2 separate regions of the Homo sapiens genome follow, and region 1 is linked to region 2. A link means that fine-mapping ties the variant in region 2 to the expression of a gene that starts in the linked region. Tissue or cell type: lymphoblastoid cells. Region 2 holds a variant in brackets; the other region holds the start of a gene. All regions are shown on one strand. Distances are between the middles of the regions.

Region 1 (16,305 bases), 40 kb after region 2:
GACCTTGTGATATGCCCGCCTCGTCCTCCCAAAGTGCTGGGATTACAGGCGTGAGCCACCGCACCCGGCCCATTTCTTACAATTAATTTTGTAGTACATTCTGGGGATTTAGAAGGGTCCCTGGTCTAAACCTCTTGTTACAGAACTGCGGGTTCTAACTTGTGTCTAAACATTTCCCTGCTTGGTTTTACCAAATCTCTATGAAACTAATACAAATTTAAGCTTAGGCACATATGAACAATCTATCTCATCTGGTGAATAATGTTGACCACCATCCTTTACTCTTCTTCTTGGGCACAAATATCCAGAACTTTATCTAAGAGTAAGTCCAGAAGTAGCACCCAAACACACATTGATGGCATCTGTCATTCTGCCAAGAAAGGAAAAAGATCAAGGCTATTGGCTTTGGCAAACTTTCAAGAAGCTGCCCCTAGTCCTGACCTAATCTTCACAGGAGGACAACTGTCAGAAGCATACGGTTCCTTAGCAAGCTGCTGGCAGTCTTGCCTCTCACTTACAGGGTTTTCCTACCAGTTCGCTTTAAAATATGGCACCTTTTTTTGCCCTTAGTAGTGATAGCTGTGCACTGATATGTCCACAATGTACAGTCTAGTCCCCAAAAGCATGATTAATTTAAAAAAAAAAAAGATACAGAAAAAATCTGACTAGAATTACAGGTACAGTTTGTGGCTCCAAAACAAGGCAAAGCTAACCCATGCCCTTGACCTGGTTTGTATGTCACTAACAAACTGAGCTAGCCAACAAGCCAGAATATAAGAACCTATCTCAGAAAATAAAAGATGGGCATCTGTATTACCCCAACAATGCCCAAAGCTAGGATCTGGGCTATCTACTCTTGTAAGCCTAAATTCAGGAAGTCTATCAGATAGGCAACATTTTCCAATCACACTGCAGGTATTTTTTTTAGACATAAAAATGACAAAGACCAGTTTAATAGGTGACCTTAATTGTGTGCCAGCAGAAATACAGGTAGCCTTAAAACCCCAATCCTGGTGTAATTTATAGAACAGAATAAACCCAGGTTATTACTAAAGGTGAATGACATACTTAAAAAGTATAACAAGATGAGGCCAGGCGCGGTGGCTCACGCCTGTAATCCCAGCTCTTTGGGAGGCCGAGGCAGGCGGATCACGAGATCAGGAGATTGAGACCATCCTGGCTAACACGGTGAAACCCCATCTCTACTAAAAATACAAAAAATTAGCTGGGCGTGGTGGTGGACACCTGTAGTCCCAGCTACTCAGGAGGCTGAGGCAGGAGAATGGCGTGAACCTGGGAGGCGGAGCTTGCAGTGAGCTGAGATCGCACCACTGCACTCCAGCCTGGGCGACAGAGCAAGATTGTCTCAAAAAAAAAAAAAAAAAAAAAAGTATAACAAGATGAATGATTAAGAAAAAAGAAAAACCTTCTGAAATCAATGTCTGTTCAAAAAATTTTATGATTGTGTAGCCTAATGGCTAACAAGCCTTTTGTTTTCATGTTTCCCTTCCTGGCAATATGCCGTTAAGGCATAGCTTTCCTATTATTTCCTTGTGTTTTAGTCAATTGTCTTCATTAAATATTGTCTAAGTGGCACAATATCTAGTTTTAAGCCAAAAGGAAAAGATCTATTGTAAGTCACGAAATCGCACCAACTGCATTGGAAATTGAACTTGCTTCCCTGGTTTTCCCCATTTAATTCACAACTGTGGCTATGGTTTAAAAGAATAGAAATTGTTTATTTGGCACCAAATTTGCTCCACTGTAAAAATAAATAAAAGTATCTCTTCTGAGGTGGGGGGAAAAAGTTTATTTTAATATCTAAGGCTATCCAATATTAGATTACATGTTTGACTACTGCTCAAGTGTTCATTATTTTCTTTTCAAAAGAGCTTTCACAATGTATGTTAAAAGACTACAGGGAAGAGGGAGGCTGAGAAATTATGGGCCCTCTTAACTCTCAACACAGGCTTCTGTGGCCCTGTTCAGGGTGAGAAGATCTTTTATCAGATGAGGGATTCAACCCAGTGAAAAGTTACCTCACTTAACAAATAAGGTCTAATGCTGGACAGGCTCCAAACAGATTTAGAGTTGTAATATAAGAGCATTTCCTTTTTCAAATAATTTGTCTATCGTTCATACAGCAAAGGAGAGCTCCAAAGTTTTATCATTTAAATACTCAAAAACAACATTTTTAATCTCACACAACATTTTCTGTTCCAGAAAATCAGGCTGTAAGAACCTGTGACATGAAGAAGTCATTTTACTCTCAATTAATCCAGGACTTACTGACCCAGCACTGTCTGAGAATTAAGAGACTCAAAGGAAGCTGTGATTACCCCAACTCGAGTTGCAGAGAAAAGAATAACGTGCCGGAAAGTCAGAAACCAGGCAACATCAGGATGTATAAAGAACTAGACTGCTTGAGTCCCTAACCTGGTCTGCCACTTACAGGCTGTGTGGCCTAAGCTAGGCAAGTTCTTTAACTTCTCTGTGCCTCAGTTTCCTCATCTAGAACATGGCAATAAAAGTATCTATCTTGTATAATTATGTGCAGTCAATGACGTAGCCCATGGAAAGTATTAGAAAGGGCTTGGCATGAGGTAGGCACCTCACATACAATATCGGTATCAAATTAGCTGTAAGTGTTGTGTGGTCAAGCTAAGTGCTTTAAGGAGGAAGGGCAGGGAAGGCTTCGTGGAAGCTGTGGCACCTGAGCTAGATATGAAAGCACAAGATAATCCAGACACTCAGAGGGAAGCACATTCCAGACGTGGACAGCCATTACTGCAGAAAGTCACAGACAGAGTAAAAACCAGGAACGCTTAAACATCAATGAGGAAAACAAGCTCACCAAAGCTGAGGGTGTATTTGGTAACCCCAGATTAATTGGGAGTGATGGGGAAGGCTCTGCACACTTGTTGCTGTGCTTCTAGGACTTAACATTCAGTTCATTTTTAGACACATGTTCTATGTATGCAAACTTGTGGACTATGAATGCAAACTCTCCCTGAAATGCTCTGTTCTCCCCCTGCTCCTAGAACAGTGGAAAGGATACTAAAAAATTAAAAGGTAACCTTTTATTTCTGAAAAAAAAAATCTGCTGGATGAAATATAGGTCACTAAAATCAACTTGAATCTCATGTTCGTCTGTCCCTGTTTCAGTGGGGCTACAAACAAGGTGACAGCTCAGAGAAAGGGGGTGAACTTCAGATCCACACTTCAACGCTGGTCTCTATCAGCAGCCTCAGCCACTCTAAATAATATAATCTACATAAAAGACAGTACACTTGCTAAGTGAATGCATCTTCAAGAGGGGTATCATCCACCCTAGCCTGATCTGTCAACCAGACATTACCTCCAAGCCACATACAGAAATAGAGAAAATGCTCTCAGTACCAGTTTCTTAAATAGTACCTGTGCAATCAATTTCCTCTAAACTTTGAGGGTTTTGTTGTTGTTGTTGTTGTTGTTGTTTTGAGACGGAGTCTCGCTCTGTAGTCCAGGCTGGAGTTCAGTGGCGCAATCTCCGTTCACTGCAAGCTCCGCCTCCCTGGTTCAGGACATTCTCCTGCCTCAGCCTCCTGAGTAACTGGGACTACAGGCACCCGCCACCACACCCGGCTAATTTTTTGTATTTTTAGTAGAGACGGGGTTTCCCCGTGTTAGCCAGGATGGTCTCGATGTCCTGACCTCATGATCCTCCCGACTTGGCCTCCCAAAGTGCTGGGATTACAGGCTTGAGCCACCGCGCCCGGCCTAAACTTTGAGGTCTTGAAACCACTACAACAGATGCTGTGCGTACTTAAGATTGGTATTCACTTAGAATATTACCTCTATTACCAAGTTAGAAATTGTAATACCAAAATAAGTCACCATATTCCTCATCCAAAGAGGAAAAAATCACAACAGAATATAGAACTTCTATTTTGACTGGTGTCCCCTCTAGAGAGAAAACAAGTTTGCTAACCCAAGTTGGACACCTTGCTTTGTTTCCGGCAATATAAGGATAGACTTAACACTGGAAATACCAGAGCACGGCTTGAAGCCAGGGAGGGCCCCACAGCAGTTACAAGCTCTGTGATTATTTCCTGAACCAAACACCTAGGGCACTCAAGGATACCAAGCTTTGTTGGAAAAGCATGTTTCCTCTGGTCCAACAGCTGCAACTTTAAAGTGTTTTCACACAAGACCTCAAGTTTCTCTTTATGCCATCTCCCAAATATTTACAAAATGAAACACTTTCAATCAGAACTTTTGCTTGTAAACACCTTATTTGTTTTAAGGACCATAGTGCCAACACTAAAAGCAGCCTTTTAAACAAAGTAGCTCAAAACCACACACACACACACACACACACACACACACACACACACACACACCCCTTAACAAGCAGAACATGTCCACAAAACAAGAAAGCCAGGATTCAAATTCCTTAGCACCTATTCATGGAGCTCCTGTAAGCACCACCCAAGGATGTGACCCACCACACCCTCTTCATTATCACACCTCCTCACTAATTTACTAATTTATGCTCCTGAAAACCCACAGAATCAGACTACTGGATGGTAACATGTTACAAATATTGGGCAAATGTTCTTTCACATTTCTTTCACATCAACCAGCCTGAAACAACTGATCCTGTTTACGGAACGGCTCTGCCTCAGGTGAGAGGACTATTGTCTCCCAGCTCTTCTGGGAGACACTGGTGGCCTGGCAAAGGCTTCTGGGTATCTTTCTCTTGGTGTCTCTCCCTATTCACGTGTCACACACCTCCTGGGAAGATTATCTGGGCCAAGGATAGTGCAACTGAGAGAAATCTAGAAATGCCTGGTTCAGGGGTAATAAGAAATTGTAACTACAAAGAAACAGTCGATGTGAGTGAATGTATTCTAAAAGCAAATAATTAGGAAATATGTCTATTTCAAATACATAGAAGGCCTTTTATGCCAGACAAGTTTTGGTTTATGATGAAATGAAACTGCTTGATAGAAAAGCTAAGGGGAATATTACCACGGATGACAGAACTATCAGTGGAAATAATAGACCTTGGATCTCCAATCATAGTTCTGCTACTTAATATTCGTTTAACATATATTTATTAAAGACCTACAAATGAACAAACTGCTCTAAATGCTGGGGGGACAGAAAAGGACAAAACAAAGACACTGCCCTCAAGGAGCTTATAATCTAGTAGGGTAGACAAGCAGAAGAATGAAGGAAATTTTCATTTAATGGTAAGTTCCAGGAAAAAAGTGACAACTTCTGATCCTGTTTCCTCATGGGGATGTAGCTACCTACTTAAAATAAGATCGTAAGTGTCAACCACCAAGCACACAGCAATCCCAAGCATTTACCTGACTATGGATACACATGCACAGACACTCTCATATACACACTTTCCCCCATAATTGCAACATCTGTGATAATGCACATTGGTATAAAATGCAAGCAGAGGGGAAACAAAATATTTATATGTCAATTACACTTAATGCAATTACAAATAACTGCATTCATTAGGAATCTATAAAAAGGCAAAACCTAAACAATTAGTTATAATACTAAAGTATAATTAGAAGGGTCCAGATACTGGAATAATAGTAGTGGTAGTATAAACAGTATTATAAATAGTCACATAGCTGCCTTGTCCATATAACCTGACGGCACAGTATCAGAAGCCAAGTTTAAACCCTTAACTTCAGATTACTTTGGGGTCGGGGACGAAAAAGGACAATGACCAAGTCTATCTTGGAATCATAGGCCATTGCGCCTAGAATTAACGTTAGGAAACCCTCTCTACCCTTTCCTCACATTACCAAAGAGAAGACTGAGGTTCCCAGAGGTAAAGGGTTAATCCCAACGTGGAGTAGCCAGTGACTGACAGAGCCAGAGTAGGACCCAAGGCTCCTGGTTATGGCCCTGCATGCTTCACCCTCAAGGACCTGCGCCCTCTAGCCTGGCTTTAGATTTTATGAGAACCACAAGGGACTGCAGTGTCTTCCAGCCGTTATTAATTGTCCCTAATCACTTCCAATCAGCTGCACCTAGAGCAAATTGAGGGCCTTTGCTGGTGACCAGAGAGCTCTCTTTATGCACAACAGGGGAGGGCGCCTTTCATGACAAAGCTGCCTCCAACACCATAAACTACCTTATTGGGGAAATGATGCGGCTAGCCCGAAAGGGGGAAGAGATTTTTCAAATTATAATTTTCAGAGTTTGCCTCAGGAAAAAGGCGCCAAACAATTAGTTTCAGGGAGAGAGGTGGCGTGATGAGGTGTGGCACGGGGAAGGGAAAGGGGTTTAGAACTGTGTCCAAGCTATTTAGGAGAGAAAGGGGAGAGTCCCGGGGCTGTGAAAGGGGCGAGGAGGAGAGAGCAGCTGGGCCAGGGCGAGCGTTTGACCACACCCACTAGCCACTCCCTCCCAGCTGCCCGCAGAGCCACATCGAATCGAAACAGCAGTGGCAGCGGCTAAGATTCCGAAGGCAGGAGTCGCCATGGCAACGGGATTCATCTTGCAGGCAACTCCGCTTCGATTCACTGGGTCCTGCTCGAATCTCAAGAAACTACCAGCAAAACGGTCACGGTGGCATTTGCTCTTGATGCTCTCCAGAAAGTGGAGATGAAGGAGAGGGGAATGGAGTTCAGGCATCACTAAATATGTTATGGGGCGAGAGGTAGCTCCGCAAAGCCAGGCCGTGAACAACTTGAGACCTTAGCAGGGTTTGATGAATGAGTAAACGAACAAATGAAGGTACTAGGAAAGGCAAAGAACATCCAGAGGACTGAGAGCTCTGGGCCTCCTGCACGTCTCCACTCAGAGGGCAAGCCGATCACAAGCAGTTGGCTTTCAGAACCAGCTGGGTAAACCCGATTATCCAGCCCTCCTGCCCCACAGCGAGCCTAATCATTAGATTATCCGACACCTCCACCCCCGCGCTACCACCTCCTGGCCCAGGGCTTCAGGGCAGGCGCTTCGCCCCAGCCCAGGTGCTCTACACCAAGGGACCGTGGAGACTGAGATGCGCCCTCCCGAGAGGGACGGGCGGCAAAAGCCCTCTGCGGTGCCTCACAACCGGGTCCGCAGGCGGCGCAGCCTCCCCGGCCGCCAACACCCTGCTCTCCCTCCGCAACGCCCGATTTCCCTTCTCTCTGTTTTGAAACATTTAGGTCCAACTTAGTCTGAATTACAGGCGCTCCGTCCCTTTCGAATGGGGCTGGAAGTGAGGGTGCCAGGGGCACTGGGGGCTCTGCTCGGACGCGAACGGGTACACGAGTCCCTCCTTCCCTGTCGCCACCGCCGTGTCCACCAAGCCTGCCTCGGGGTTCTCCCTCTCGGAGCCGCCGGGCCGGGAGCTCGCGGACGCCGCTGCAGTACCCGCGGCCCCAGCCCCGGGGAGCCTTCAGCAAGGCGGCGAGTGTTACCCCGCCAGCTCCTCGGCCAGCCGGGCGCCTTAGAAAGAAAGGGAGGGACCCCAGTCCTTGGGGGCGTCTTCCTCCCTGCTGCCTCGGTTTGCGTTGCGCTGCAGCCATTTTCCCACCCCCAGCTAGGCAGCCGAGAGCTGTCTCGGTCCCGTTCCCACCCAGACCCAACCTGAAGGACGGGTTTAATATTTACCTACTGGCCCGGGAGCTCCGGGGAGGCAGCAGGAGGGCGCGCCGCGAACCCAGCGCCCAGCCCACGGAAGCACGCCCACCCCCGCACCACTGAGCAGTGCCACTTAATGAATGAGTGCGGCGGGCAAGGAGGAGCGTCCCCCTTACCTGAGCAGCCCCTGCATGCTGGAAAGGCGGCTCTGCACTCTGGGTACAATGGGATCCGGTTAAACAGTTTCCTTCACAGCCGCTCGTAGGTTACTAACTCGCAGGTGACATCACCCTCTCCTCGCCTGATAGGATACAAAGTGGCTCCCACTGCGCATGGACGCTCCGGTCGGGCGCGCAGACTCCTGGGAGTAGTGGTCCCAATCTATTAGCGGAGCCGGGACAGCTTTGCTGTCGGGACTCGCGGAACTACATCTCCCGACACACTCCTCCGCCCTTCTGCCCCGCCTCTTATTCCCGCCCCCTTCAGGACCCGCCCCCTCCCAGCCTTACAGCCTTGCAGTGTTAGCGGTGGTCGTTCCGAAGCCGAGCTGCGGACCGCACGGGAGAGTGGGAGGGCTGCCCTGCGGTCGTGTGTGTTGACTTGACCTCTACTTTGCCCGGCGCGGGCTCTGAAGGATCGGAGAGGTCCGGGGCTCGCGTGGTCCGGCCAGGCTCGCTCTAACTGGTCTTTCTTGGTCCCTGCTGGGAAGGGACGATTAAGACTTTTCTGCCTTCCCCAGGCGTAGCAGCTAATTCAGAGGGCTTACTGTTTTCTGGGTTAAATACGGTCCTCGAATTCTCCCCGCTCAACACTTCCAGAGGATGGGGCGACGCCGGTCCCAAGGCGGAGGAATCTCCTTGTACCCCCTCAATTCACCTTTCTCTTTTCTGCTTCCCGTTTAACGGAGACAAGGTGACCAGGCAGAACGCGGGGAACCACTTAGTCGGCTGAGCTGACAGAATAACGGAGGTTGTCACTACCAGAAGTGCGGTGTGATAGACTAGACAGTCGCCGCAACCCTCCGTCAGGGCGCCTGCTGCTGCTGCAAAGATAATACTATCGTGCAGCCATGCTTTTGTTCATCCCTGCAGCAGACTTCCCGCGCTGGTGGCTCTCCACTCCCAGGAAGAAAACGTCCTTGTCTAAAGTTTTAATAATTGTGTATCTATGTATACACATGTTTTTAAATCCACAACACTCTCACCTCATTTTCCATACCTTTTCAAATATTTTTATAAAGACATTAAACCAAACAACATCGTGCCGTTCAAGAATTGCCCTGCTCTTAACACACCTAAATATTTATTTAAAGGTAAGCAAAAGGTGTGTAGCAGAATTCTGACCCTTTAGGCAGGTTGTATTGTTAATACATAATTTTTTCCGTGGCATTTTTCATTATTCAGTGAATACCAAGTGTCTTTTAATATGAAAAGAATCAATGCATTTAGTTACTCGAGTTGTAAATGTAAATTTTAATGGCATTTGATGTGTCTCAATTCCATATAATGATCAGCTCACACACCCGTTCCACTAGCAAAATCTCTAGAAGACTGTGCATCTTGTGAAAAAAAGGTTCACAATTAAGATTTCAGACAACTCCCTACTGAAGTGTTGGTGGAACTCTTATCATTTATTTTCTCCTTTCATTCTGCAACACTAAGTTGGGTTCAAGTGAAAAAATATTTATGAAATTAGTTGAGGATCTCAGGGGAGAGGAAATGCTTTGTTTTGCTCAGAGAGATGTTTAGCGATGAATTCTGATGTTCTTTTAACAAGCCTGTTCTTTATAGACAAGACCCACTTTTCTCCCCCGAAAGAAGATAGCTTTGAATGTTGCTCTTCTGTCCTCAGCTACTTCTTCCATTTCAAATATTATCTAAAATGAACTCTGACAATATAAATTTTCCCCTGGCCATCAGATCAAGGATATAATCACTGATATTCTAACTAATGGGTAGACTTAATGTAACGCAGTTCATGGTGGAAAAATATTCAGAGAGAAACTTGACCTGGGATGATTCTAAAGGCTCTTCTAATTTTATAACTGTGTAAAGCTTTTAGACTGAAACATAATCAGTGAGCCTGAAATTTATTGAGTCAATAAATTGAATGTGGAGCCTTTCTGTTAAGACAGGGCTTATCCTTGTAGATAAAAGTATGTTACTGAGGCACACTCTGAGGAGTAATTTTAATGGAGAAATCACCTTACAACAAGTTCTCTTGGCTCTTCAGTAATGAAGGAGAAGATGCAGTCTGTCTGAAAACAAAAATTCCATTCTCTTTAACAATATTATAGGGATGTGCCATGTGACATAGTCATCTCCATATAAAGGACAGCATACACAATAGACTGTAAGCACATAAATGTGGAGAAATGCACATGTGAACTGCTCTTCCTATCTAATAGCTATAAATATAGATAATAGATGTAGAAAGAGGGCATTGTGTTTGGAAAAATTATCTGCAAGTGGTGATGGATTTGAACTGATCCCTGCACAGTTTCATTGGTAACCAAGGGAAACAAAGATGGCTCTTTAACATGAGAAATACAGTCTGTAGAACTAGCAGCAGAGGAGGCTTAACCACTTCTTTGGAGACAGAAGGAAACTCACACACACACTCTCTCTCACTCACTTTCATACACAATCATTGTGTATGTTTGCATTTAATTTTTTCTAGGTGGCCAAGTAGTCTCATAAATCATCAAAAACACCCACTCTGTCTAGCTAATTGATATTCTCAGTCAAAATGGGTTTCTTTACTTTCTATCTTTTCATTTTACATAACTGCTGCTGTTCTGAAGACCTTATGAAAAGCCCTGCCTCATCCCATAATCGTGGCCTATTAATTAGGAACCTGTGAGACCACTAAGAACAGATTTGACAGTCTATACAGGTAGGGGATGAGGAGAAGGCACCACGAAGCATTTTGATGATCTTTTAAAATCACCTCTCTCAGTGCTGGTTATAAGGTTTTACTCTAGATACTGGATTTTAGATAAAGGAGGAAATGAGTTATCAACAGAGAGAAAGAAATGAAAGTGTGTAGCCTTGCGTGTACTTTCATGCAATAGCTTGGTGTTTTGCAACAATCAAGGTTGTATGCTAAGCCCAGGTTTGGGATTGTGCCATTCCATTATTTGTGATCCATGTTACTTTGCATATTTGTGTTATTTATTCTCTCTGAGCCTCAGTTTCCTTATTTATAAAATAGGGTTAATAATAATATATATTTCATGAGGTTTTTGAGGATTAAATTAAATGAAGCATGTAAAAATATTTTTCAAACTGAAAAGCACTATACAAATGTTAGTTCTTGATATCATTTGCAATTTTTCCCAAAAGATTATCTCAGAAATGTCAGGCCTAATTATGGAACAAGGTAATAAAAACCCATTTAAATTAAAAATTCTTATTCTTAACAGAGACTATTAGAAAGAATATAGCATGCACATATTATCTCACTCTAATTGGTAAGTAGGCAAAATGTACTTTGAAGACTAAAATGAGAAATTCAGGGTTGAACAGTGCCAGTCCTTGACTTGTTCTCAGATCTATATGTTCTTCCTCAGGATCCCCTGCTGTCCTCAGTAACATAGGGAGCTTTTCCCAAGCTTCCCAGCATGGAGAGGCACTGCTGGGGGATTGTAGGCAGGAGGAAGAGAGAAGCTAGGGAATTTCTTCACTTCCTCAGAGGTGCATTGGGTGATGTTTCTGGCAGTGGCAGCAGCATTTTCCTTGTTGGACTGGTCTGTCATGGTTCCAGCTTCTTCCAGGTCACCCTGGCCTTGTAACACCACCTTCTCCCTTTGTCCCTCTTGCCTAGCGGTAGAGATAGCTTCCTGCTGTTGCTAATCTCTGCGTTGGGTGTTTGGCTTCACAGATCTTCTATCACAGTATGGCCAATTCTCTGGACCACATTATCTCTGTTTTAAATACTACTTAGAATCGTTTCTGTTTTTTTGGTGGAACACTTTAACTGACATACTCACACTTTAGTTAAAGTTCTTTTAGGGGCAGACAACAAGAACTTTCTATGGCCAGTTTATGCAAAACAAAGAATGTAATGGGATTTATTCAAAGGATTAGACAACCAAGGCTCAAGACAAACAGGAACTGGACAAACTAGGAACCTAAGCAGTGGTAGTTTTCAGACCTCTCCAGAGCACTGGTCTACTAGCACTAAGACTCCGAGCTCTTTGTTCCAAATTTCAAATTCCTGAGAGAAGCTTATTGTCCTATGTCAGGCAACAGTCCCTGACTTAATTATCTTAAAGTACAATCCCCAGACCAGCAACATCAGTATCACCTGAGAACTTGTTAGATATGCAGATACTTGGGCCACACCTACACACCTACTGGAAAAGAAGCTTTAGGGATGGGTCCCACCACATGTGTCTTCACAAGTCCTCCAGCTGAGTCAGACACACTTGAATGTTTTTGAACCATGGATCTACAGCAAGCGTAACAAGATTGTGTGGCTCAAATATGATCACTCAGGACCTATCCCCGTGTGTCTGGGAGTCTTCTCAAAAAGGAGAAAGTGTGAATCTGGAAGCCACCCCAAGAGGTGTCAGTTAAAGCTGGTAAATCTATCAGGATCTTAATGGTAAAACTTGGTTCTTCCTGAGGGAGAGGACTTTGTAGCATTCTGAGCCAACTATTCAGTTTAGTCACTAAAAAGGCACTTGGAGGAGATTCATTTCACTGTGTTTAATTGAGAGCTCAGAAAAACTGAAAAAGCGGCATCGGAACAGAACAAGGGAGATGGAGTCATACAGAAACGTGAGAATGGCAACAATACTAAGGTTAGGCACAGTAAGTGGAGGGGTGAAAATACCTCCAGCCACCCAAAACTCTCTCCAGACCAGTCTTATTTGAACAGCTCCTCGGAGTTCAGAAAGAGAAACTCTCCTTTGACATATTTTAGCCGGTCTTCCTGTATAAGCTTCTTCGTAACTGGCTTACTCTTAGTCCATCTGTGAGACCTGTGCTGTTCAATTCTGTAGTCACTGGCCTCATGTGGCTATTTAAATTTCAATTAATTAAAATTGATGAAATTTTAAAACTCAATTACTCAGTCACAGTAGCCACATTTCAAGTGCTCAAGAGCTGTGTGAGGCCAGTGGCTACCATACAGGACATCACAGATACAGAGTATTCCCATTACTTCTTCAGAAAGTTCTGTTGGACAGCACTGCTACACATTTGTTCACTAATGACTGTTTAGATTCTTTCATGCTGAAATCCACCTTCTTTTCTTCTTCTTCCCCAAGTCAAATTCTGAAGAGAGAGAAAATGAAGAGACAAAGAGAAAGGATATATAATTGTTCTAGTTCACCAACTGAAGCTAGAACATATAATAAATCACTGGCCATCACGAAAAAGACAGCCCAACTAATGCTTAAATTCATTTGTCAGCAGGAAAATATAAATTAAGACTATAATGGGATACCACTACATACCCATCACATTGGTTAAAATTAAAAGGACCAACTATACTAAGCATTGCCAAAGATAAGAAACAAATCTTACACTGCTAGTGAAACTGTAAACTGGTAAAACTGCTTTGGAAAAATCTTTATTAGTATTTGCTAAGCATGAGCATACACATCCTTTATGGCTGAGCAATTTCACTGCTAGCAATATACCTAACAGAGTTGTGTATATGTGTTCACCAAAAGTTACCTATTCAAATGTTCATAGTTATGCTATTCATATATTCATACATGTATTCATATAGCCTAGGGTTGCCATACAATATTTGGGATATACTTACACTAAAAATATTTATTGTTTGTCTGAAATTCAAATTTAAGGAGACATTAGGTATTTTTATTTGCTAAATCTGGCAACTCCATGATAGCCCCAAACTAAAATCAACACAGTTGCTCATCAACGGTACAGTGGATAAATAGATTGTGGCATAGGCACATAATACTATATCGCAGGGGTTGGCAAACTTTTTTCTGTAAGGGGCCAGATAGTAAATATTTTAGGCTTTGAGGGCCATATGATCTCTGTTACAGTTACTCAGTGCTGCCATTGTAGCATGAAAGCAGTCGTAGACATAAAGGAATGAGTATGGCTGTGTTCCAATAAAGCTTTATTTACAAAACAGTCAGCTGGCCTGTAAGCCTGTAAGCCATAGTTTGCCAACCCGTGCTATCTGGCTATGAGAATTAACAAGCTATGTCTACGTGTGAAAATAGGAGGAACCGCACCAAAAAACACTGAGTAAAAAGAGTATATACTGTATGATTCCACTTATGTAACATTTTTTTAAAGAGGTAAAGCCATTGATAGTGTTAGAAGACAGAGTAACAGTTACCTTTAGGGGATAGTAATAGAAGAGAACATGAGAGGTCTCTGGGATGCTGGTATTTTTTATCTGGGTGCTGTTTATGTGGCTACTTTATTTTGTGAAAATTTATCATGCTGTACACTTAAGATTTGTGTCCACTTATGTATATACATATTAAAATAAAATATTTATATGAATTAAATACTAGGCCAAATTATCTCAAGATCATTCCCATAAGAAATTGTTTTATGTATTCTGGTACCCAAGTTTTTTAATATATTTTTCTAATTATAATGGTTATTCATGTCTTTTGTAAAGAATTTAGAAAATATTGCTACTTAAGGCCATAAAAATCACCCATGAGCCAACAAACGAGGGAGAAATATTAACATTTCTCCCTCCACTCCCCACCATCTTCCCTCTCATTGGATTTTTTTACATCATTAGCATTTTGAGTGCTATGTGATATTTTATTTTGGGAAGATAACCATTTGTTCTTGTTATTTATTTTTTATTTCATAATTATAAACTTAACTCTGTAATCCAGCTAGACTTAGAGAATAAGGAAAATATGGAACCCAAAGAATTGCAACAAGAGCACAAAGATAATGGACATTGCAAACAGATGGGATGGAGGGATACTCTCTTGAGCTACAGAAAGAACAGTGTGGTGGCTAAGATAAAACACAAGCCAAATTTATTAGAGTTGTCCACAGTTAGCAATGGCGATCTTCTTGTTGGTCTTGCCATTTCTGGACCCAAAGCACTCTGTGCCTTCCAAGATATTCCTTCTGTCTTTACCTTGCCAAAAAACCACATGCTTGCCATCCAACCACTCAGGCCCAGCTGTGCAGATGATAGACTGGAACTGTTGATGTTGGGTTCAGAATTTGCCATGGACAAGATGCCAGGACCTGTATGTGTCAGGATGAAGTTCTCATCCTCAAATTTCTCCCCGTAGATGGACTTGTGTCAGTACCACTATGGCATATGAAGTCACCACCCTGGCATAAAACCCCTGGAATAATTCTGTGAAAGCAGGAATACTTCTTTTCTCTCCAGTGGTCAAAGATCTAGGGGGTTAGGACTCCAGCATATGAATCAACATATGAATTGGGTGTGGGGGAATACAGTTCAACCCATAATAGTCAGAATACAAAAGTTGTCTGCTATCTCTGGAACCGTCTGCAAACAGCTCAAGGAAGGAGATGTGGCCCCAGGGCTCGCCATCCACTGTGACGTGGAAGAACAATGTGGCTCTATAGCATATGTTAGGTGTATTGGTTTGCTAGGGCTGCTGTAACAAAGTACCACAGAAATGTATTGTCTCACAGTTCTGGGGGCTACAAGTCCAAAATCAAGCCCTGTCTGTAGGGTTGGTTCCTTCTGAGGGCTGTAGGGGAAGGATGTGTTCCAGGCCTCTCTCCTTGGCTTGTAGATGGCCATCTACTTTCTATTATCCTCCTTCTATGCATGTCTATCTCTGTGACCAAATTTACCCTTTTTATAAAGATACCAGTCATATTGGATTAAGACCCACCCTGGCCAGGGGCAGTGGTCCATGCCTGTAGTCCCAGTGCTTTGGGAGGCCGAGGCGGGAGAATTGCTTGAGTTCAGAAGTTCAAGACTAGCCTGGGCAACATAGCAAGACCCCGTCTCTACAAAAAATACAAAAATTAGTCACGTTTGGTGGTCATGCTTGTGGTCCCAGCTATTTGGGAGACGGAGGTGGGAGGATCACTTGAGCCTGGGAGGTTGAGGCTGCAGGGAGCTGAGATCATGCCACTGCACTCCAGCCTGGGTGATGCAGTAAACCCCGTCTCAAGAAAAAACCAAACCAAACCAAACCAAATCAAAAAAACAGCAAAAGACCCACCCTAATGACCTCACTTTAATTTGACTGCCTCTGCAAAGACCCTTTTTCCAAATAAAGTCACACTCTAAGATCCTGGGGATTAAGACTTCAGCATATGAGTCAACATATGAATTGAGTGTGGGGGAATACAATTCAACCCATAATACTCAGTAAACACAAATAAGGGAAAACTGACTTTCTAGGTCTCAGCACCAGTGTTTTGCATGTCATAGTCACATAGATGTTAAAGCTGTTGAACATCTGATTAGGAAATATAGATAGGATCAAAAAACTGAATATAGCAACCTGAAACTTTTCAAAAATAATGGAAATAAAAAACAGAGGGTGTTTCCTGAGTTATGTGGAAGCCATGGTGCTGTTTTGGGGTGTGAAGGCTGAGGTCTTGCCTCTAGGTATCCAGCCCTGTCACTCTTGATCAGGAATTCTCAGATGAAGACTCTGCCGACCTTCCATTGGTAAAAATTCCCTGGTCATACATTTTAGACAAACCATCCCAAGTTAGCTTTCAAAATATCCCCTATTGAGGGTGTCATACAATT
Region 2 (16,305 bases):
AAGACAGCCATGCAAAAATCTAAGAAAAGAGTGTTCCAGCCAGAGAGCAAATGCTTGAAGGGAGAAAAGGTGAGGCATGCTCAAAAACAAAAAGGCGGCGAATGTACTTGAAGCACAGTGGACAAGAGGAAGAGGCAAGAAGCCAGGTCACAGGGCTTAGCAAGAGCCAGACCATGTGTGATGAGTAACAGAGAGCATTATAATTCTAATGATTTCCCATCTTCAGGTCCTTAGTTATTAAACAAAACAAAACAACACCTACTAGATAGAAAACTAGTCATTCTACTACAACTTCTTCCCTTTGATCTGCTAAAAATTACCTGAAGATTCAAATGCCTAGCAGCTCAGGAAAGAACACTATTAATGACACTTCATACTAAAGAGGCAATTCTCCAAAAATAAATAAATGAATGAATAAATAAGTAAATAAAGTGGGTTGGGGGGAACAAAATTTAGGGCTCTTCTCATTATAAAGCCATGGAGTAACCATTTAATATGGGATTTTTTTTAAGAAAGGGAATTTCCCATTATTAAGCATATCAAGTCTATTTTCCTAAGTATATCAAGCTATTCATTTGACGAAGTGAGGTCTGTCTCCGCTCCACCTCTGTGCACCAGCTGCATGCGTGTTCCACCATAACTCTTTCAAAGCAATTGGCTGGTTTGGATGAAATGCAATATATTCACATACCAGAATCTTTGGGACACAGCTAAAGCAGTGTTAAAAGGGAAATTTATGTAACTAAATGCCCACATCAGAAAGCTAGAAAGATCTCAAATCAACACCCTAACATCACAATTAAAAGAACTAGAGAAGCAAGAGCAAAGAAATTCAAAAACTAGCAGAAAACAAGAAATAACTAAGATCAGAGCAAAACTGAAGGAGACAGAGACATGAAAAACCCTTCAAAAAAATCAATGAATCCAGGAGCTGGTTTTTTGAAAAAATTTAAAAAATAGATAGACCACTAGCTAGACTAATAAAGAAGAGAGAAAAATCAAATACACACAATAAAAAATGATAAAGGGGATATCACCACTGATCCCACAGAAATACAAACTACCATTAGAGAATACTATAAACACCTCTATGCAAATAAACAAGAAAACCTAGAAGAAATGGATAAATTCCTGGACACATACACCCTCCCAAGACTAAACTAGGAAGAAGTCGAATCCCTGAATAGACCAATAACAAGTTCTGAAATTGAGGTAGTAATTAATAGCCTACCAACCAAAAAAAGCTCAGGACCAGATGGATTCACAGCTGAATTCTACCAGAGGTACAAAGATGAGGTGGTGCCATTCCTTCTGAAACTATTCCAAACAACTCAAAAGGAGAGACTCCTCCCTAACTCATCCTATGAGGCCCACATCATCCTGATACCAAAACCTGGCAAAGACACAACAAAAAAAGAAAACTTCAGGCCAATATCCCTGATGAACATCGAGACAAAAATCCTCAATAAAATACTGGCAAACCAAATCCAGCAGCACATCAAAAAGCTTATCCACCGTGATCAAGTCGACTTCATCCCTGGGATGCAAGGTTGGTTCAACATACACAAATCAATAAATGCAACCCATCACATAAACAGAACCAAGGAAAAAAACCACATGATTATCTCAATAGATGCAGAAAAGGCCTCTGATAAAATTCAACATCCATTCATGCTAAAAACTCTCAATAAAGCTAAAAACTCTCATAAACTAGGTATTGATGGAAGACATCTCAAAATAACAACAGCTATTTATGACAAACCCATACCAATATCATACTGAATGGGCAAAAGCTAGAAGCTTCCCTTTGAAAACCAGCACAAGACAAGGATGCCCTCTCTCACCACTCCCGTTTAACACAGTATCGGGAGTTCTGGCCATGGCAATCAGGCAAGAGAAAGAAATAAAGGGTATTCAAATAGGAAGAGAGGAAGTCAAATTGTCTCTGTTTGCAGATGACATGATTGTATATTTAGAAAACCCCACCATCTCAGCCCAAAAACTCCTTAAGCTGATAAGCAACTTCAGCAAAGTCTCAGGATACAAAATCAATGTGCAAAAATCACAAGCATTCCTATACACCAATAGACAAGCAGAGAGCCAAATCTTGAATAAACTGCCATTCACAATTGCTACAAAGAGAATAAAATACCTAGGAATACAGCTGACAAAGGACGTGAAGGACTTCTTCAAGGAGAACTACAAACCACTCTGCTCAAGGAAATGAGAGGACACAAACAAAAGGGAAAACATTCCATGCTCATGGATAGGAATAATCAACATGAAAATGGCCACACTGTCCAAAGTAATTTATAGATTCAATGCTATTCCCATCAAACTACCATTGACATTCTTCACAGAATTAGAAAAAAACTACTTTAAATTTCATATGGAACCAAAAAAGGGCCCACACAGCCAAGACAATCCTAAGCAAGAAGAACAAAGCTGGAGGCATCATGCTACCTGACCTCAAACTATATTTCAAGGCTACAGTAACCAAAACAGCACAGTACTGGTACCAAAACAGACATATAGACCAATGGAACAGAACAGAGACCTCAGAAATAATGCCACACATCTACAACCATCTGATCTTCGACAAACTGGACAAAAACAAGCAATGGGAAAAGCATTCTCTATCTGATAAATTGTGCTGGGAAAACTGGCTAGCCATATGCAGAAAACTGAAACTGGACCCCCTTCTTACATCTTATACAAAAATTAAGATGGAGTAAAGACTTAAATGTAAAACTCAAAACCATAAAAACCCTAGAAGAATACCTAGGCAATGCCATTTAGGACATGGACATGAGCAAAGACTTCATGATTAAAACACCAAAAGCAATTGCAACAAAAGCCAAAATTGATAAATGGGATCTAATTAAACGAAAGAGCTTCTGCATAGCAAAAGAAACTAGCCTCAGAATGAACACGCAACCTACAGAATGAGAGAAAATGTTTGCAATCTACCCATTTGACAAAGGTCTAATATCCAGAAAATACAAGGAACTTAAATTTACAAGAAAAACACAAACGACCCCATCAAAAAGTGGGCAAAGGATATGAACAGACACTTCTCAAAAGAAGACATTTATGCAGCCAACAAATATAGGAAAAAAATCTCATCATCACTGATCATTAGAGAAATGCAAATCAAACCCACAATGAGATACCATCTCTTGCCAGTTAGAATGGCGATTATTAAAAAATCAGGAAACAATAGATGCTGGCAAGGCTGAGGAGAAATAGGAACGCTTTTACACTGTTAGTGGGAATATAAATTAGTTCAACCATTGTGGAATAAAGCATGGTGATTCCTCAAGGATCTAGAACCAGAAATACCATTTGACCCAGCAATCCCGTTAATGGGTATATACCCAAAGGAATATAAATCATTCTACTATAAAGACACATGCACATGTATGTTTATTGCAGCACCATTTACAATACCAAAGACATGGAACCAACCCTAATGCCCATCAATAATAGACTAGATAAAGAAAATGTGGTACATACACACCATGGAATACTATGCAGCCGTAAGAATGAGCTCATGTCCTTTGCAGGGACATGGATGAAGCCAGAAGCCATCATCCTCAACAAACTAACACAGGAACAGAAAACCAAACACCACATGTTCTCACTCATAAGTGGGAGCTGAGCAATGAGAATACGTGACACAGGGAGGGGAACAACATACACCAGGGGCTGTTGTGGGGTGAGGGGCAAGGGGAGGGAGAGCATTTGGACAAACACTAGTGCATGCAGGACTCAAAACCTCGATGACAGGTTGATAGGTGCAGCAAACCACCATGGCACATGTATACCTATGTAACAAACCTGCACATTCTGCACATGTATCCCAGAACTTAAAAGAAAAAAAAAAAGAGAAAATTTTAAAAAAAGAAAGAAAAAAAAAGAAATGCAATATATTCCTCTGAAACCTGTAGAGACATACTACATGGCTTATTTTATCATTCCAAACTAAACAGAAGACTGTTTCAGGGTACAGAATTTCAACATGTTGGTGAACAGCCACCATATCCATCTCCTTTGTTAATGTCCTTGCCCCTCTGATTTTTTAGGGGATTTATGAATCTGAAAAGACAACTTTGCATTTTTAGATTCAAGAATAAAGGAAGTCAAAGGTCTTCTGCAGGAAGGCTAAGACAGAGAGGTTCTCTGATAAAACTATGACTCTCAGTGACCAGTATACATTTAGGAAGAACCAGTAGTTTCGATATTCTCTGGAGGTGTGACATCCAACTGGCCTTGACAATGCTTGGATCTGCAGAACAAGCTCTCCTCATGGTAAATGCTGTGTGGTGACAGGTATGGGTGTTTATAACCAGACTTGAATAGGCTATAGAAAAACAAGGTGAGAAATATGCTGAAGTGCCAACCTTTAAGCAGCAGCACTGCTGGAGAAATCCAGGGCACAACTTCCCAAGAGAATTAACTTGCTATCTGTTTCCTCTCTGTAAAGTGGGGATAAAATAGTACTAGCTCTCAGGCTGGAGCATACTTTACTAAGTTCTCAACAAATAGTATATTTCTCAAATGTGCCCACCACTTCACATGCTGAGTCCTCATAAAATTACCTCCCAAAGACTCCACCTCCAAATACCATCACACTGGGATTAGGATTTTGACATAGGCATTTTGAAAGGACATATTTAGTCCACTGCAGAGGTCCACTTATATGCTTTGGTAGACCTCCTCGGTGTTGACCAACAATATAGTAGCTAAAGTTTGTTAAGCACATACTGTATGCCAGGCACTGAGTTCTTCCAATGGATTCCTCATCAAGTTCTAACTACAAGCCGGTGATGTGAGTTTTATTACTGGCATGTTATACAGTGAGGATCTGAGGCCCAAAGATTAAGTATACTGCCAAGGTTGCACAGATAATGAATGGTACAACTGAGATCTGAACCCTGGCTGTCTGACTCTAGAGCCAACGTCTTAATCACTAAACAAAATACTTCCCTTAAAAAATAATAACGTGTTTTTAAATGTGGTTTTATTAATTGCCAAATAGCTCGACTTTCATTCGCAAGCATCAACAAATCTGATGCTGAGTTTGCCATGGTCCCCACTACTCCCTACCCTTTCTTAACTTCAAGGGTAGGGCTCATTCACCATTTTTCATCATTATTGCTTGCACTTTTCCTACTTAGAAAAATTTGAAGTAAAATATTTCTTGTGCTTACATCTGTATCAAAGGTGGGGAAATATAAGATGTTAGTTTGATTTAATCGTTCTACATTGTATACATAAATCAAAACATCACATTGAACCCCATAAATATATGCAATTATGATTTGTCAATTAAAAATATTAAGTGGGAAAATAATATGCTGTGCCATATGTTTGAAGAAAAAGGAAGTGGAAATGAATATATTCTTGTGTGTTTAATAAACAAAGTAATATGTACTTTCCTTCCCATGTTCAGTACATCACCTGCCTGCTTGAAATATCTGAATTTGATCTGTCTTAGTGTCTACATAATTTTAAGCAGCATAAGACATTGACAGCAAGTGCACAGTTGTTCAACAGAGAACATTTTTAATTCTGGCAACAAAGATAGTGGAACGAATCCCACATGCCATATAATAATGCTTACAAACTTTTTATTTTTAATTTTTATGGGTATATAGGTGTACATATCTGTGAGGTGCATTAGATGTTTTGATACAGGCATGCACTGTGAAATAATCACATCATGAAGAATGGAGTACCCCTCCCACCCCTCCCCTCAAGCATTTATCCTTTGTTACATTCTTTCAGTTATTTTAAAATGCACAATTAAGTTATTATTGACTACAGTCACCCTGTTATGCTGTCAAATAGTAGGTCTCATTCATTCTGAGTTTTTTTGTACCCATTAACTTTCCCCACTCCCTCCAAGCCCCCCACTACCCTTCCCAGCCTCTGGTAATCATCCTTCTACTACTTTCTAAGTCCATGAGTTCAACTGTTTTGATTTTTAGATCCCACAAATAAGAGAGAACTTGCAATGAATAATGCTTTTTATATTTACATAACTTAGTAGTCTCTGGTGAATTTAATTAGTATCTGTTATATTTTTTAAGTATTTAATTTGTTTGGATAGAAAGAAACCCAGCCCAGGAAGAGGCTCCATGTTAACCCCGTGGCACACCAATGCCTCCTGGGTAAGGGAATCCTAGCTTGTGGGGGGAAAAAAAAAAAAAAGCCTCTAAGCATCACCCCCCTCGGCTGCAGTGTTTGCTTCCAGTTACAGGAGTCTCTGTGCTGCCCCAATCAGACTTCCAAGTAACAAAGGCTACTGGGAGTCTAGTTCCATTGCAGCCACCTGAGGGGACCCATTTGTAAGGAAGTGGTAAGAGGCACACCCAGGTACCTGCTGTTTCACAAAGAGAAATGACGGATCTGTTGTGTGGTTTGTCTCAACTACATCACAGCTGAAATTCAATTTGCAAGGGTAAGAGAGTTAATAGTGGGCCTTAAATTTAAAATCAGCTAAGGTTTATGCTGGTAGGTTGACAGTGCTAAATTTATTTACCCTTATCACTGTTCCATTATCTCAAACATTCTACTATTAAGATGGGTGGTGGTGGGAGAAGCTTATTTGGCATTCACTTCAACCTGGTGAACAGTTATTTATAGACAGGAAAATAGCCATGGCCACCTATCAGGATGGAAACCACCAGCCAGAGCCATGCCTTCACTGAAGTGCCTCTGAGGGCTTGCTAAAAGCAGAAACTAACCCACAAGGTGGGATTAAGCCTCCTTCTACTTAATTTCAACCAAGAAGTTTAATCAACCAGGTTTTACACTACTTTATTTACTGTTACCATGTTTTTGGAACTTAGAACTCCACTGTTGGCCATCTCTTAGGAAGTAAAGAAAGAAGAAATCTTCCTACTGGATTTACTTCAAAAATGAGAGTAGAATAAATACACAAAGGGCCAGGACAGATAGTAAGTCAGTGTGGGTCTTCATTTTAATCTTGTTTGTATGTTTATTCTTGGTTTTACCTACACCTTCTCTGAAGAGCAATGTGAAGTGAATTTATAAATCAAGGGTATTATATAGGCTTTTAAAACATATCAGTATGTCATAAAGACGAATTAGTAAATACCTGACATGCAATGCTACATCATTTAGGGTGATGCTTAGGGTTAAATCCTTGCACGATGAAGTTACAGTTTAGGACTAAAGAGGTAACAACTCACAAAAATCAAAAGCCAAATGACACACTGGTCTCAAGGAAGATCTCCTCTAACCATAATGAAAAACACACTACAAAATGCATCATTCGCTCAATGAAAAGTGGGAGTGTCTTTGGTAAAAACATACTAAATCAAAATATCTTCCACTGCTGACATGTAGGGCTGGGCAAAATGGCACACATGGAAGAAACACCCTGCGAGGAGTCTTCAAAATCAGCCCATTAAATGCTTTTTAGTTTTAATACTTGCTTGCTAATCAGAACTACAATATTCATAACCAAATCCTCATTAAAAGGAATTTGTTAGACTATTTCTCTAACATTTTCTAAATACAATGTAACTTTTAAAAGTCAATCAAAAATTGAAGTGTTTTAGAACTCAGGGAAAAGACGGAAACAGAGTATCCATTCTACCAATGGACTGCCACTAGAATCCAGGTGAAATAAATTATTTAAAACCATAGCTAAGTCCAAAACAAAGTAACCTTTTGATCTACAACACTTGGGGGAAAGGCAGAGGGAAAAGGTAGGCAAGGAAAATACATGATTTATTCAGATTATAAGTGGACATGTGGACTGAGTGTGCTGGCCTCCAGGTGGTTCTGAGTGGAGAATAAGAAAAAGCCATCAAGCACAGAACACACAAATACGACTCTCTGGCCCTGAGGGAAAAGAATCTGAGTGATGAAACCCAAATATATGAGTGAAATCTAAAAATAGCCCTGTTTCTACAGAGGTATTTTCCTTTTAACATTCATTCGAAATGTGTGGGAAGACAAAGCAGTTGGAGTTAAGTGAATTTCCAGATTTCATTAAAAGTCAAGTGATACTCCGAACCATTTTCAACCAATAGTAAAAATACAATTTCCCCTTCCTTTAGTTTTTTTTCTTGGAAGTTGGGGAGCGGAGGAGGGAGACACAATACTGGGCAAGAGTATCATTTCTAAATTTTCTGAGAAGCTGATATTACCTATAGGTTACACATCTTTAACATCTAACTTATGTCATGGGAAACCATTAGATCCTTGGAACTTTGTCAGTGAAAACCACCGTAATTATTTTTTTCCATAAAGAAAGATGAATAGAGAATGACAGAATGTTGACACTGTGATTACATTTTCCCATCATGCCACAAATTTAAAAGATTTCATTATTACAGCCTATGATTTTTTTTCTTCCCTTAAGATTTAGAAGAAAAAAAAAGTGGTAAGAAAAAACAACTTGTGGGTTGAAACATGTAATTCCAGGACTTCTTCAAAAAAGTTCAAAGGGTTTCTACTAGTAACCAAGTTCTATGCTCTAAGTTGTCTTTACTTGCAGGTAAACCTTTTCTAGAAGACTCCTGCCTCAACTGTTTCGGTGTGTGGCAGAGATACAAA[C/T]TGGTAGCAATGACTAGGGGTAAGAAATCCCCGCGTCTCACTGGGATAGCCTGCCTGTGGAACAAGGAGTACCATTCATTCATTAGTCCTGGGTGCCCCTATGGGTGCTCTATGAACTCAAACACATTTGGACTACGTGTCCTCTGTGTGCCCAGCACTGATGGAAACACAACCTATCCCTACCCTCAAAAGAATCAAGTTTAGTGAAAGGGCTTACAATGTGAACAGCTTCTCCTAATCATGTTCTGGAGCACCAGATCTGGTCTGGAAAACTGGAAAAAGTGGAACAAGCACGAGGTGACACATAATCGAGATAATGAGACATGGGGAGAATCCAAGCCTATATGTGAATCCTCCCATTTTTCTGCATATTTTATGCAGCACAAGATAAATACTATAGGAATATTAGGTGTTGGAACAAATTAAACTTGCAAATCATACTTCTAGTACCTGGCCATCCCAAACAAGTCCTTCAGGACCTTCACACAAACACAGGTCTCACAATCTCATGGCCGTCTCAGTGAAACTACGTAAGATAACAAGAAGGTGACCTACATAGTCAGTCTGTAATGGGGAACCAGAGACTTTTCCCCTCCTATTCCCTGAAAGCATACTTTCAGGAGTAAGGGGCAAAGAAAAGGAAATGAAAAGGTACACCACACCATCCTTGTTCACACCATCCTTGTTCACATGTAAGCCTATTTCTGTACACAAGTCACTTTATGAAAGCACCAACAGTATTTGTAAGGGAGTCTGTAAAGAACCAGAAGCTTAAACTGGAATGTAAAAGACGCACTTTAAAGGTATACCATATAATCATTTTATTCTGGGCAACTCAATATTTTAATTCAAAACAGTCAGTTTTACTGGAAATTCTACAGATGTATGCTAGGCATTTTAATTAAAGTAGAAAACAAGGTGGGGGAAAAATCTGACAAACAGAGACATGGAAAGGTGGAACTATAACTTGTACAACTCCAGAGGCACTATTCATGCTGCACTTCATGTGACTGGAGTTGGGCAATGCCAACCTATGTAGCCATCCACAGGACTTTAAAATAGTACAGGGATGCTACTTAGTGTCCCAGTCCATTCCCAGGTTCTAATGAAAGGGCCCTCCTATTGCATTTGCAGGGTAAATGTTTCCCAATCTAGTGATGATCCTTCCCTTTTCCATCTTTCTAAACTTCTACTTCAGCAAAAATGAAAAGGCAGCTTAACCCATGCTAGTGAATAAGCACGTTAAATTGCTTCTAGTTTCAGACAACTGAGAATCCTACTGAAATCTGTTGTTGTTTTTGCCTGCCTAGCATACAGAGATTGACTTTACAAGGAATGACCCACCTCCATTCCCTGCACTCTTGGTATCATGTCAGGCCCATCCCACCCCCAATCCTGCTAGAAATGTGATGCTGAGCAGACCTAAGATGTGAGAAATTGACTTTCTTCCTGGAACCCTAAATGCCCAAAGTCTCCTATGCTTTCCAGTCTTCCTTACAGATACAAAGACTGCCCCATATTCTTCTGCTATGTACGTGTGTGTGTGTGTGTTTGTCTTAAATTTAGTTTCTCTTGCTTGCAACCAAAATAATTCTGATATATCAACTAAAAGGAAAAGAACAAAGAAATATCCCCTTTGGTGCTACTTGGTGCCTTCTCTATGCTCTTACAGAGGTACAAACCAAGTCAGTAAACAGAGCAATATACTAAGGAAGTAGGTATCTGTTCAATATCCCTCCATCAAGCTGAAAGTCCCAGGGGATATTCTACCAAATGCATTCCAGTGAAAAGTATCCTAAGTTCCAGTCTGAAACTACTTGAAAATAATAAGAGGTCTCAGGTTGACTACTCAAATATAAAAAAAAAAATTATCATCAGGCAACTGAAACACATTTCGAGTATATGTTGCATTAGACTCCTTAGAGTTGTTCTTAGTTGCCCCAATGTCGTAGGGCTTGAGTTTCTTGCCACATTAGTAAGAGGGTTCAATTAATATATATATCAATTCATAGATATACATGGGCAACATATTATTTTTAATAGCATGATCTTACATTTTATAGTGCTATGCAAAGTGATTCCATGTACTATTTCTCCTTCGATCTTCGCAAGCACCCTCTCAGTAGTCAGGGACAACAGGCATCTTAATACTTTACAAAAAAGGAAACTAGATCAAACCTTGCCCAGAATCTGTACCAGCAGGGCTAAAGCTGGCCCAAGGACAGCCTCAAATCAAGATCTCTGTCCGCCAGATCTCTGTGAGCACTCTACTGCACCACCCTGACAAATCCAGAATCCCAGAGCCCACATTGTACCTAGCCTCAGGTGTCCTCACCAGCTAATGGAAGAAGTGGTACTAAACAAATTCATGGAGTAGGATGGAGGAGAGGCAAATCAAAGGCACAGAAAGAGGAGGCTCAAGTCCCAACTTGCTTTAGACAGGGAAACACTTGCTTCAGTGTTGCCTCACTAATCACATTTATTTTTGGCTTCATTGTGAGAGCTATTAACTATCAACAACAGATTCATAGTCTTAGGCAATTAAGGCTGCTACAACAAATTACCTTAGACTGGGTAACTTTTTAAAAACACAAATTTATGGTTGGGCACGGTGGCTTATGCCTGTAATCCCAGCACTTTGGGAGGCAGAGGTGGGCAGATCACAAGGTCAAGAGATTGAGACCATTCTGTCCAACATGGTGAAACCCCGTCTCCACTAAAAATACAAAAATTAGCTGGGCCTGGTGGCGCATGCCTGTAGTCCCAGCTACTCGGGAGGCTGAGGCAGAAGAATCACTTGAACCCAGGAGGCAGAGGTTGCAGTGGGCCGAGATTATGCCACTGCACTCCAGCCTGGTAACAGAAGGAGACTCCGTCTCAAAAAAAAAAAAAAAAAAAAAAAAAAACCCACACAGATTTATTTCTTACAGTCCTAGAGGTTGTAGAGGTTGGGAAGTGTGAGGTGAAGGTGCCAGCATACTCGATGTCTGGTATGGGGCTGCTTTCTGGTTCATGGAATGGTGCCTTCGCACCGTTCCCTCACACAGTGGAAGGAGCAAGGAAGTACACTAATCCCATTCATGAGGGCAGAGCCATCATGACCCAATGACCTCCTAAAGACACCACCTTCTAATAGCACCACCTTGGTGATTAAGATTTAACATACAGATTTGGGAAAACAAATTCAGACCATGGCATTCTGCCCCTGCCCCTCCAAAATTCATGTTTTTCTCACGTGCAAAATACATTAATTCCACCTCAATAGCCCCAAAAGTCTTAACTCAATCCAGTACCAACTCAAACGTTTAAAGTCCATAGTCTCATCTAAATGCCATCTAAATCAGATATAGGGAAGACTCAAATGTATGATTCATCTGAGGCAAATTCCCTTCCAGCTGTAAGCCTGTGAAATCAAACAAGTTACGTGCTTCCAAAGTATTACAGTGGGAAAGGCCAAATGGACATTAGAACTGCCTCTACCTAGGAAAACAGTAAATCCAAAGCAATACTGCATTCCTAGAGGGTTTACAGAGATGTGCCACCATCAAGGATTTGAAAGTTGCAGGGGTGATGATTCCCACCATATCTTCCAATTCAGCTCTCCCATTTGACCTGTGCAGAAGACAAATGGATCTTGGAAAAGGACAGTGGACTATCATAAGCTTAACAAACCAGTGATTCCAATTGCAGCTGCTGTACCAGATGGGGTCTCATTGCTTAAGCAAATCAGCATATCACCTGGTACCTGGTATGCTGCTGTTGATCTAGCAAATGCCCTTTTCTCCATACCTGTCCACAAGGCCAGCCAAAATCAGTTTGCTGTCACCTGACAAGGCCAACAATATAACTTTTACCATGCTGCCTCAGAGGTACATCAACTTTCCAGCCCCACATCATAATTTAGTGTGAAGGGATCTTGATCACCTTTCCCTTCCACAAGACATCACACTGGACCATTACACTGATGACATTATGCTGACTGAATCTAGTGAGTGAGAAGCAGCAACTACTCCAGACTTACTGGTAAGACATTTGTGTGTTAAGAGTGCAGGAAACAAATCTGATAAAATGCAGGTCTTCCATCTCAGTGAAATGCCTATGGGTCCAGAGGTGTGGGGCATGTTAAGACATCCCTTCCAAGATGAAGTACAAGTTGTTATATTTGGCCCCTCCTACCATCAAAAAGTGCAATGACTAGTGGACCCATCTGGATTTTGGAGGCAACATATTCTGCATTTGGGCGTGTTACTCTAGCCCACTTACTGAGTGACCCAAAGAGCTGCTAGTTTTGAATGAGGCCCAGAATGGGATAAAGCTCTGCAATAGATCCAGGCTTCCGTGCAAGTTGCTCTTCCACTGGGGCCATATGATCCAGCAGATTCCAACATTGCCTGAAGTGTCTATCAGTGGCAGACATAGATGCCATTTAGACTCTTCAGCAGGATCCTACAAATGAATTGCAGCACCGGCTTTTAGGATTTTACAATAAGGTGTTGCCATCACCTACAGATGGCTACCCTCCTTCTGAGAGACAGCTCTTGGGCTGGGCCTTGGTAGAAAATGAGCACTTAATCATGGGCTACCAAGTTACCATATGACCCAAACTGCCCATCATGAATTGGGTATTATATGATCAACCAAGCCACAAAGCTGGGCATGCACAGCAGCACTCCATCATCAAATGGAAGTGGTATATACACGATCAGGCGAAAGCAGATCCTGAAGGCACAAGTAAGTTAAATGTCATCATGGCTCAAATGCCCACAGTCCCCACTCCTGCTACACTGTCTTCTCTAGTCCCAGCCTGCACCTATGGCCTCATGGGCAATTCCCTACAATCAGCTGACACAGGAAGAGAAGACTTGGGCCTAGTTTGCAGATGATTCTGCACTACATGCAGGCACCACCTGAAAGTGGACAGTTGCAGTATTATAGCCGTTCCCTGTGACATCCTCAAAGGACAGTGGTGAAGGGAAATCCTCCCAGTGGGCAGAACTTCAGCAGTCCACCTGGTTGTGCACTTTGCTTGAAAGAAGAAATGGCCAGACATGCAATTATATACCCAATTCATGGGCTGTAGCCAATGGCATGGCTGGATGTCCACAGACATGATTGGAAAATCGGTCACAAAGAAATCTGGGGGAGAAGTATGTTGACAGACCATTCTGAATGGGCTAAAAACATGAAGATATTAGTTTCCTATGTGAATGCTTACCAAAGAGTAACCTTCAGCAGAGGAGGATTTCAAGTGGATAGAATGACCTATTCTATGGATGCCAGTCAGCCTCTTTTCCCAGCCACTTGTCATCGCCCAGTGGCTCATGAACAAAGTGGCTATGGTGGCAGGGATGGAGGTTAGGCATGGGCTCAGCAACACAGACTTCAACTCGCCAAGGCTGACCTGGCTACAGCCACTGCTGAGTGCCCAATCTGCCAGCAGCAAAGACCAACACTGAGCCCCCTTTATGGCACCATTCCCCAGGGTCATCAGCCAGCTAACTGGTGGCAGGTTGATTACACTGGACCTCTTCCATCAAGGAAGGCACAGTGTTTTATCCTTACTGGAATGGACATTGACTCTGGAGATGAATTCGCCTTTCCTGCATGCAATGCCTCTGCCAAAATCACCAACCATGGACTTCCAGAATGCCCTATTCACCATCATAGTGAATAAGAAGCATTGCTTCTGACCAAGCAACTCACTTCACAGACCACAAAATGAGGAAAGGGGCCCGAACTCACGGAATTCAATAGTCTTACCATGTTCCCTACCATCATAAAGCACCATCCTGAAGTAGCTGATTTGATTGTACAATGGAACAACCTTCTGAAGACTCAGTTACATGCTACGTAGCTGACAACACCTTGCAGGGCTTGGAGCAAGGTTAGCCAGAAGACTGTATATGCTCTGAATCAGCATCTGCTATATGGTAGTGCTTCTCTGACAGCCAAGATTCACAGGTATAGGAATCAGGAGTGGAAATGGGAGTGGGTGGCACCACTCACCATTACGCCTAGTGGGTCACTGGCAAAATGTTTGCTTCCTATTCCCACAACTTTATGCTCTGCTGGCCTTAGTTCCAGAGGGAAGAATGCTTCCAGCAGGAGACACAACAATAATTCCATTGAAATGCAAGTTAAGGACATCAGGCCACTTTGGGCTCCTCATGCCTCTGAGTCAGCAGGACAAGAAAGGAGTTACAGTGTTGGCTGGAGTGACCCATCCAGATTACCAAGAAGAAACTGGACTACTATTCCACAGTGGAGGTAAGGAAAAGTATGTCTGGAATACAAGAGATCGTTTAGAGCTTCTCTTAGTATTACCATGCCCAGCAACTAAGGCCAATGAAAAATGACAACAACCCAATCCAGGCAGAACTGCCAATGATCCAGACCCTTCAGAAATGAAGGTTTAAGCCACCCGACCAGATAAAGAATCATAACCAGCTGAAGGCAAAGGGAATACAGAATGAGTAGTAGGAAAGCTAGTTATGATACCATCTGTGACCATGTGACCAGTTACAGAAAGGAAGATTGTAATTACCATGAGTATTTCCTCCCTATTTTGTTATGAATACGTTTGTGTGTATATAAACATATATTAAGTAAATATCCTTGTTTTCCTTCCTCTCTTATTCCCTTATCACACAAGATGTTAATGACTTTATGTCAGTATTTCAGTAATGATAATTTTCTATACTATTTAAGTTACAGAGTCTCAGGAGAGGAGTAAACATCACTCAAGGACTTCACCTCCACTTCCAGAGAAGGGATAAGTGCACTTTCAGTTGTACACAGGATCATTGTACCTTGATAGGTGGAATTATGACCTTGTCATTGTCTTTATTTGGAGGTTAGGTATGGTTTAAGGGGATGTGTATGGATGTTAAGTTGACAAGGTAGACTTGTGTAATTTGACTGGGTTAAAGGGTACCCAGATAGCTGGTAGAACATTATTTGTGGGTGTGTCTGTGAGAGTGTTTCTAGAAGAGATTAGCATTTAATCTGTAGATTCAGGAAAGATCCTCTCTCACCAATGTGCGTGGGCATCATCCAATCGGTTTAGGGCCCAGGTAGAACAAAAAGGCAGAGGAAGGGTGAATTCACTCTCCTAGAGCTGAAACATCTATCCTCTCCTTCCATTGCACACTGGAGATCCCCTAGTTCTTAGGTCTTTGGCTCTGGTACTCACACCAGCAGTAAGTCATCCCCATCCCCCTCTGCCAGCACCACCATTGGCTATTGGCTCTCCTGGTCCTCAGGCCTTTAGACCCAGCTAAATTACACCATCACCTTCCCTAGTTCTCCAGCTTGCAGATGGCAGATGGCGGGACTCCTTGGCCTTCCTACAATAAATCCCCTTGACAGATTTCCTATTGGTCCTGTTTCCTTGAGAAAACAAAGACTAATAAAGTAAGTATTGTTGGGGCAATAATTGTGGCTATTGAGGAAACCATGTCATAAGCCAGTTCATTCTTCAAAACTAGGCAAAACTTATTTCTAATACAGAATATTTAACTTCTACCTCCCTTAAATGTTGGCAAAAATAAGACCAAACAACAATCCACTCAGCAAACATAGAGCATGTTTGCTCTAGAGTTAATCCATGTGCCACTTATAGGTTAAGTATAGGTAACAAAGTAAAACATATCACCCTTGCCTTTTAGGAGCTTAAAGTTTAATTAAGTTCCATTACACCTGAGAATAGAG

Which allele goes with the higher level. Alleles are on the strand shown, and positions count from the first base shown. SD is a standard deviation of normalised expression in the study named.
For the expression in lymphoblastoid cells of the gene that starts at base 7,865 in region 1, allele T in region 2 goes with a higher level than allele C (moderate effect, 0.62 SD a copy in TwinsUK).

The links.
Region 1: DAAM1 starts here. The variant in region 2 is fine-mapped to the expression of DAAM1 in lymphoblastoid cells (TwinsUK, PIP 0.95).

What each region holds. Positions count from the first base shown.
Region 1 is chr14:59,180,227-59,196,531 of GRCh38, reverse strand. It overlaps DAAM1 (dishevelled associated activator of morphogenesis 1), which reads right to left and starts at 7,865. Exons shown (of 25, transcript NM_001270520.2): 1 at 7,764-7,865. LOC107984642 (a long non-coding RNA gene) reads right to left here. Exons shown (of 2, transcript XR_001750928.1): 2 at 12,285-12,869. It also overlaps the pseudogene PPIAP5. RefSeq lists enhancers at 6,233-6,282, 6,713-6,872, 6,583-7,342, 8,123-8,362 and silencers at 7,233-7,452, 7,513-7,652.
Region 2 is chr14:59,220,216-59,236,520 of GRCh38, reverse strand. The region is part of intron 1 of DAAM1 (dishevelled associated activator of morphogenesis 1); the gene reads right to left. Among named protein-coding and RNA genes, the nearest start is that of DAAM1, 40 kb to the right of the region's middle. RefSeq lists a silencer at 15,836-16,130. The variant C/T (reference allele first, on the strand shown) is at 8,596.